3 separate regions of the Homo sapiens genome follow, and all the other regions are linked to region 3. The links come from fine-mapping of genetic effects on gene expression. A gene starts in region 3. Each other region holds a variant in brackets. All regions are shown on one strand. Distances are from middle to middle.

Region 1 (2,773 bases), 78 kb before region 3:
CAGACTAGGCCTTAGAGTGTTATCTTACAAATAATAGGTCATTACTGGATGTTTTCTAATGGGGGCACGACATACTTATACACTTTTAAAAGTCACTACAACTATAATGTGAGGAATACCTTACGGACAAACTAGCTTAGATGAAAAGGCAACTTGGGTGAAAAGAAAATTGCAATCAAGGAAAATTCATATGTAAAGCCATCGAGAACTACGGTAGTGTTAGTAGAGATGGAGAGAAGTAGATTAAAATAGGGATATTACAATGAAAGACATAATATGTTTAATTTGTATTGTATGTAAAATATGACACATCTGTTTTATTTATACTTGTTGTTATTTCATTTATAGTTTTTATAGGCATGGAGTCTCACTATGCTGCCAAGGCTAGTCTGGAACACCTGGCCTCAAGCCATCCTCCTGCCTCAGCTTCCTAATGTGCTGGGATCACAGACATGAGCCACCATGCCCAGCTATATACTTTAAATTTGGAAAAATCTAACAGTAAAGCAAATGGCCAGGAAATGTCTTTGGATACCTTATAGCATTGTCAGATTTTTAAGGCCAAATATTTAAAATTAAAACACACACAAGGAATCCACTTAATCTGAAGGACCATTTACAGTTGTACTCCTATTTCCATTATTAGTGTGAGGTGAAACAAATACTTAAACTTGATATTAACAAAATCTAATTGAAGCTCAAATTCCACTTCTAGCAAAGATGGAGTAATTGATGCTAGCCTTGCTCAGAATAATTAAAGAAAGTGTTTTTTAGATAATTGATAAGAGGAATGTGAACTTTGACAGTAAAGAAATATTCAAGTTGAAGTTCATGTCTCCTCCATATTTCTGCTTAGGAGCACTTTCCAGAGTAGTCATAGGGAAGAAGGGGCAAAGCAGAGTATAGTGTTCTTGCTGATGTGAAGAGGCACAGCTCAGAGCTCAGAACAACGAAATGGTAGAAATTTTTAAGGCAAACGCTGAAGAGGAAAGAGAGGCTGAAGATTGACAGAGGTGGACACTGTGTTTACATGAACATTTCTATAATTTTTGCCTAACAC[T/A]AATATGTGGTTTTATGGGGTGAAATCTTAGGCTAACACAGAGGGAATATAATGGGGTGGCAAGCTCAGTAGAGATACCAAAGGGCAAAGGGTGCTGGGGAAATGTGAATCCTGGCCAAGAAGAAATTCACTCACACCTCAGTAAAACCATCCCTTAGAAATAAACACAACTCTCTGTACAGTAAAGGCCAGATCCTCAGGATAAGGGCAAAACAGGAGGAGCATTTTTAAAGTAATTATGAAAGCAAGCTTGGCAGGACAAAATAACTCACCAGTAATTTAAGTCTTTGTCAAAACAATCCAGAGACCTTCCAGAATGACATCAAGAATGGCTGTAATAGATATAATTGTTATAAAATGTATAAGACATATGAATGAGTAGAAAATAGTGATAATTAATGTTTTATTTTTTAAGTATTTATTTATTTATTTTTAATTATACTGTAAGTTCTGGGGTACATGTGCAGAACAGGTAGGTTTGTTACATAGGTAGACACGTGCCATGGTGGTTGGCTGCACCCATCAACCTGTCATCTACATTAGGTATTTCTCCTAGTGCTATCCCTCCCATAGTCCCCTACACCCAGACAGGCCCCGGTGTGTGATGTTCCCCTGCCTGTGTCCATGTGTCCTCATTTACAAAAGCCAAAATAGACATAATGGGATCTGATTAAACTAAAGAGCTTCTGTGCAGCAAAAGAAACTATCATCAGAGTGAACAGGCAGCACAAACACAGAATAGGAGAAAATTTGTGCAATCTATCCATCTGACAAAGCGCTGATATCCAGAATCTACAAAACTTAAACAAATTTATAAGAAAAAAACAACCCCATCAAAAAGTGGCAGAAAGATATAAACAGACACTTCTCAAAAGAAGACATTTATGCAGCCAACAAACATATGAAAAAAAGCTCATCATCACTGGTCATTAGAGAAATGCAAATCAAAACCACAATGGGATACCTATCTCACGCCAGTTAGAATGGCGATCATTAAAAAGTCAGGAAACAACAGATGCTGGAGATGATGTGGAGAAATTGAAACACTTTTACACTGTTGGTGGGAGTGTAAATTAGTTCAACCATTGTGGAAGACAGTGTGGTGATTCCTCAAGGATCTAGAACTAGAAATATCATTTGACCCAGCAATCCCATTACTGGGTATATACCCAAAGGATTATAAATCATTCTACTATCAAGACACATGCACAAGTATGTTTATTGCGGCACTGTTCACAATAGCAAAGACTTGGAACCAACCCAAATGCTCATCAGTAATAGACTGGATGAAGAAAATGTTACACATATACACCATGGAATACTATGCAGCCATAAAAAAGGTTGAGTTCATGTTCTTTGCAGGGACATGGATGACACTGGAAACCATCATTCTCAGCAAACTAACACAAGAACAGAAAACCAAACACCGCATATTCTCATTGATAATTAATTTTTTAAAAACTGACTGAGATAATGTAGATGTTGGAATTGGCAAAGACTTTAGAAAACTATTGTGACTATGTTCGATTATATGAACAAAATGATTGAGATGATGATTAAAGAGAAAGGTAGTCTGGGCAAAGCAGTAGAATCATCTATATGAACGAATGAATGAAATTTCAAAATTAAAGATTAAAAGGTAGAACATGAAAAAATTACTAGATTAATGTAATACAATTTTGGAGATTACAAAAGAAAAAGTAAGTAAACTTG
Region 2 (2,773 bases), 400 kb after region 3:
TAGATTTCGGAGATATAGACCAGGCAATTCCTATATAAAATGCTGTGAATAATTGTTTATACTAAAATTTAAAAGTACAAGGTAAGAGATTAATACAGAGGCATGAACAGGATATGGTCCAGATTTAGTTGGTTTGGAGGTATTTAGTTTGTGGGAAGGGGAAGAGCAACAAGCATTTTGGCCAGAGGTCTTGTTTTGACCAAAATAGAACCTTCTTGGGAGTTTTTGAGCAAAAAGAAAAAAAAAGCAAAAAAAAAAAAAAAAAAAAAATATATATATATATATATTATATATATATATATATATATATATATCACTAGAAGGAATCACAGTAGCTGCTGAGTACAGTATAATTTGCCAGAGTATGTAGATCACTTTAAAAGGCACAGAAATAATTCACGGGAGCAATCATGTCATTCTGAACTAAAGAGGTACTGATGGAGTTACTGAGAAATTGAACATTTCTGAATATGCATTGGATTTGCTGATTATTTGGGTGTGGGATGTGAGGGAAAGACAAGTGTCAAGCATAACACCATGCTTATTTGGCCTAACAGAGAGGAAAAAATAGAGCTCTAAAACAATGAGTTTGGGTAGACTTAGTAATAAACAAATTGAGTGGTGATAAGATAGTTTCTTTGATAAGTTGACTGAACTAGGCTACTATCACCAGTTATTCAAGTAAACACTAATTAGATGTGATGTGATTGACGTCCACAATCAGTTGACTTTAAGGAAGGGAAAATATCCTAGATAAACTGGGTGAGCCTGAATCTATTATTTGTAAGGTCTTAAAAAAGCAGAACTAAATCTTTCCTGAGTTCAAAGAAATTCTATCTGTGGACAACCACTTCAGCTCAGGCTCTGGAATTCCAACCTACTTTTCCAGCTTTCTCTGATATTTGGAAATTAACTAGCCAGTCCCCAAAATCATGAGAGCCAGTACCTTCAATATATCTGTAATTCATATATTTTTATTTCTTCTTCTCCTGTTGAATTCTGACTAACGAAACTGGGTAGTACTTTTTTTTGTTTTCTTGAGCTATCTGTGAATTTCACAAAGGGAGATGTCAGACAAATATATGAAAACAGAATCGGAATGCCATAGGAGATCTGTGTATTAGAGAATTACATGTTGGAGTTATTGGCTTATAGATCGCTGGGGCAGACAAAAAAAGATCCCCCAGAAGATATTCACATGAAATCCCTGGAAACTGAATGTTACCTTACTTGGAAAAAGGGTCCTTGCAGATGTAATTAAGTTTAGAATCTTGAGATAAAGAGATGATCACCATAGGTTATTGTCATGGTCTGAATATTTGTGTCTCCTCAAAATTTATATGTTAAAACTTAACCCACAAGGTAGTGGTATTAAGAGGTGGGTCCCTTGGGCAGTTATTAGATTAGATGGCAGAACCCATTTAATCCAAAATGGGATTAGT[G/A]CTTTTATCAAAGAGGCTAGAGGAAACTGGTTTGCCCCTTCTACCATGTGAGGACACACTGAGAAGTTTCTGGTCTTTGACCCAGAAGAAGGCCCTCATCAAAACTTGACCATTCTGGCACCCTGATCTTGGACTTCCCAGTCTCCAGAATTGTGAAAAATACATTTCTGTTGTTTATAAGCCACCTAGTTTATGGCATTTTGCTGTAGCAGCTCAAGTGGATTATTACAATTATTGAGGTAATCCCAAAATTCAATGACAATTGTTCTTCTAAGAGACACACAGAAGAAAACAGACACACAAAGAAAGAGATGATGGGACTAGGCGATGTGACTACAGAGTCAGGGAGTTGCAGTCATGTAGCCCAAGGCCACAAGTTGAGGAATGAAGACAGTTGGCAGAAGCTAGAAGAGACAAGAAATGGATTCTCCTTTCGGGTATGCAGATGGCGTGGAGCCCTCCCAACTCCCGCCTCAGCCTTCAAATTTATGAAAAAGGGTTCCAGAACTATAAGAAAACACATTTCTATTGCTTTAAGCTGCTCATTTTTGTGGTAATTTGTTAAAGCACTCTCAGAAAGGTAATACAATCATATTTAAAGCCACAGGACTGAAGAAGACAAATTTGGAGGTGGGTACAGACAGAAACAAGAGTTCTAAGAAGTGACTCCTAGGGCACTCCAAAATTAAGAAATTGGAAAAATGAAGCAAATCTCATGAAGGTGTGTGAGAGGGACTGTCCAAAACAGTATAAGAACCAAAGAGATTACTATTTTAGCATCCTGGAAAAATACGCATCCTAAGGTAAATCAGTGGTCAGTGTGTCAAGTTCAGGTAGGCTAAAAGAGATGAATACTGCAAATTGACATTTATATATTTGGTATTGTCATCAATAACCTCTATAATACAAGTTTTAATCTTGTGTGACAGTTAACGGCTAATTTCTATACTCAACAGAGAATTGCAGGAATGAAAAGAAATACATTGAGTAAAGATATCTTTTTTTTTTGAGATGGAGTCTCGCTCTGTTGCCCATGCTGGAGTGCAGTGGCACGATCTCGGCTCACTGCAACCTCCGCCTCCCAGGTTCAAGCCATTCTCCTGCCTGAGCCTCCTGAGTAGCTGGGACTACAGGCTTGTGCCACCATACCTGACTAATTTTTTGTATTTTTAGTAGAGACAGGGTTTCACCGTGTTAGACAAGATGGTCTGGATCTCCTGACCTCGTGATCTGCCCACCTCAGCCTCCCAAAGCGCTGGGATTACAGGCATGAGCCGCCACGCCCAGGCCAAAGATATCTCTTTGTGGCATTTTTGCTTTAAAGAGAAGCT
Region 3 (2,773 bases):
CTCTGAAATTAAGGCACCCTGTCGAAGAAAACATACAAAACATAACAAAAACTATGGGCAAATGATACGGTGATAATTCAGAATTCTAGCTCTATTATTATCAAACTTTAGAGGGGCCATAAAATTTTCCTGATCTTAATGCCATCGTCTGTAAAATTAAGAGTTTCAAAAGTCCATTTCTGCTCTAAATGTCATTTAGCTGTTCAGCTCAGTGGAAATGTTTGGTGTTTTCAAATATAAAACTAATTGGTAAAATTCATCATATAATAACACTGTGATACATTAAAACCTTTTTGGAATCTAATTTTGAATCTCCCTCTCACTTCTTTTTTGCCCCTCAGATTGAGTTTCTTCCTTTTTCATTGTGCTGATTATGTAAGGGGCCTGTTGACTGTTAGAATGATCAAACAGGTACAGAGGAGGCAGTATGGCAACCGGAAACAATACTAAACTGGAAGTAGGAGTGTGGTATTACAGCTTTGACCCCGCCTCCAGTTAGTCCTGTGACAATTTAACATTCTGAGCATTTTTATCTGCTAAAGAAATAATAATAATAACAGCCCAAAATGATCTTCGTAATTTCTCCTCTAGCTTTAAAACTATAATTGACATATATGTATTTATATGCATATATGTATGTATATGTGTATATAATTTATTTATGGATGGCACTTTAAAAGGAATCTACCTGTAGCCGGAAAAATGCAAAGATGTTAATTACTTTGTGGAGCTATACTGACATCCTTTGGTAAGGTTTGGTTGATTGCAATTTGATGTGGAGATTGATAAATAGCGAGACAGTTAGATGTTTAAGTAGATAGAACAATCCAAATGTATTTACATCTGTCCACACACTCATTTGGGTATGAAACCCGTATTTATGAGAAAAAACAACGTTAAAAAGAAAAAAAAGGAGACTGTGTCAAGTTCAAAGTCTAAATATTTTAATAACACTAATTACATATTTACATTTTTAATAAAATATTTTATCTATAAAGTATTAAAATGCAAAGATTAGGCAGAGAAGACTGGCTCGCGGACATTCCAAAATGATGAGCGAGGTATGCACTCCTGTGACAATAAGCAACAAGAGAAGGGATTTGGAAAATCAAGCCGAGAAAGTTCCCTGAAAGCAAAAAATAAACATTTAAAATCACAACGAAAAATCACTCTGGTAACATATCAAATCTGGTTGCAATTTGACTTGGCGCTCTGATAATACTTGGATTTCGGTAGTCTGGTGTAAGGACGGTGCAGGAATATATATTCCAGAAGAACTATCTTTTTTTAAAAAAAATTGCAAGAAGCAGTCCTGTTCCTGAGATTGTATTACGGACACAGGCGGATTAGATTGGGCTGATTACCTTAGCCTTGAAACAGAGAGTCTTTCTGCCCTGCGGGGGAGGGGACGCCTTTCAAGCAAAGCCCTCCTCTCGGATGCGCCCTCCCCTCGCATTCACTTGCAAATCGCTGTGTGCTCGCAGAAGCCAGCACTTCCACAGTCTCTAACCTTCCCATGGCGAGTGCTGCAGCTCTATCAGCAGAACCTTTCTCTCCGTGTGAGGAAGAGCTTTTTTCCCCCCTTTCCTTTTTTTTTTTTTTCCTTTCCCCTTAATCAGAAGCACTGAATGAAAGCCAATCAGAGAGAGCTCGCCCCCGTTTTCTTCGGTTCCCTGCTGTCCAGAGTTAAAAGTGATGCTGAGAAAGAGCTTGAGTTAGATTGAAGTAGAATCAGTGATAGAAAATAACAGCCGAAAACAAACAAAAAGGGGACATAGTGACAATTTCTCCTGGGTTATTTTGGCTGGAACCAACTTCCATTATCCAGAAGCTGATAAAAAAGGTAGGAAGACTTCACCTCTTTCTTTTAACTCCGTTAAGGTATTATATATTCCTCCACTTGAGGGGTGGGGGGGGAGAGGGAGGAGATAAATGTTTGTTTTTAAGTTGTGTTTAGCAATTATTTCAAAATAATTATCTTTAATACTTAAATAAGCATACAACTCTATATATTTAATTCTAGAAACAACTGCTTCGAATATCTATATAGGCAATGTAAAGCTGGATAAATTATATATTATGCTCAACAGTGGGTCATGATATTAGAGTTTGTGAATTCATTCACTTGGAACAAATGCTAAAAAATATGTTATGAAGTGAATTTGTCATGCCCAGACTTGTTCATTTTTATTTTAAAAATCAGTTCAAGAGATAACATTGTTACTGTGAACTCTAACATCATCTAACATTACTTTGCATTCCATATGAATGGATTCACTCTGCACTTATTCGTAGTCATAGTTCATTGTACGTTCAATATAAACAGAAATGACAGGCAGAAGACAGATTCCTTGAAACTGTCAATGGTCACTAAGCATCTACATAAATACAATAGATTGACATTCATCAGAAATAGAATAGGCAGAATTCTTATTTTCAATTTTATATCTGAGTCAGAAGTATTGGGGGGAGAGAGGTAAAGAGAGGGAGAGTAAATGCATGTAGTCAGCAGTTGCAGCATTTATTGTTTCTGCTGCAATAAAATCCATATTTTATGTGTTGTTAAATTAATGCAGCATATTGCAAGTATAAATGCATGTCCCCAACAAGTAACTATTGATAGCACTGTAACTATGGGCAAAAGCAGTAGTCTGAAATTGTTTTTATGCCACTAAAATAAAAACCTACTGTCTCCTTATTATGAAAAAAGGGGAGTCTACAGGTACAAAGACAAATATTGTTTTAAAAATGACCTATCATCTTTTGCTTTGAA

Which allele goes with the higher level. Positions count from the first base shown, and alleles are read on the strand shown. Sizes are in standard deviations (SD) of each study's normalised expression. Not every link is listed here.
As copies of A replace T in region 1, the expression in atrial appendage of the gene that starts at base 1,459 in region 3 goes up (small effect, 0.27 SD a copy in GTEx).

Evidence for each region. PIP is the estimated chance that this variant, and not a neighbour inherited with it, causes the effect.
Region 1: its variant is the best candidate, but not a certain one, in a credible set for the expression of CDH10 in atrial appendage (GTEx, PIP 0.57).
Region 2: its variant is the best candidate, but not a certain one, in a credible set for the expression of CDH10 in lung (TOPMed, PIP 0.55).

Annotation. Positions count from the first base shown.
Region 1 is chr5:24,721,206-24,723,978 of GRCh38, reverse strand. No RefSeq gene overlaps it. Among named protein-coding and RNA genes, the nearest start is that of CDH10, 78 kb to the right of the region's middle. The variant T/A (reference allele first, on the strand shown) is at 1,061.
Region 2 is chr5:24,241,241-24,244,013 of GRCh38, reverse strand. No RefSeq gene overlaps it. Among named protein-coding and RNA genes, the nearest start is that of LINC02899, 290 kb to the right of the region's middle. The variant G/A (reference allele first, on the strand shown) is at 1,443.
Region 3 is chr5:24,643,664-24,646,436 of GRCh38, reverse strand. It overlaps CDH10 (cadherin 10), which reads left to right and starts at 1,459. Exons shown (of 12, transcript NM_006727.5): 1 at 1,459-1,843. It overlaps LOC124901174 (a long non-coding RNA gene), which reads right to left and starts at 1,728. Exons shown (of 2, transcript XR_007059125.1): 1 at 1,365-1,728; 2 at 923-1,126. RefSeq lists an enhancer at 1,167-1,762.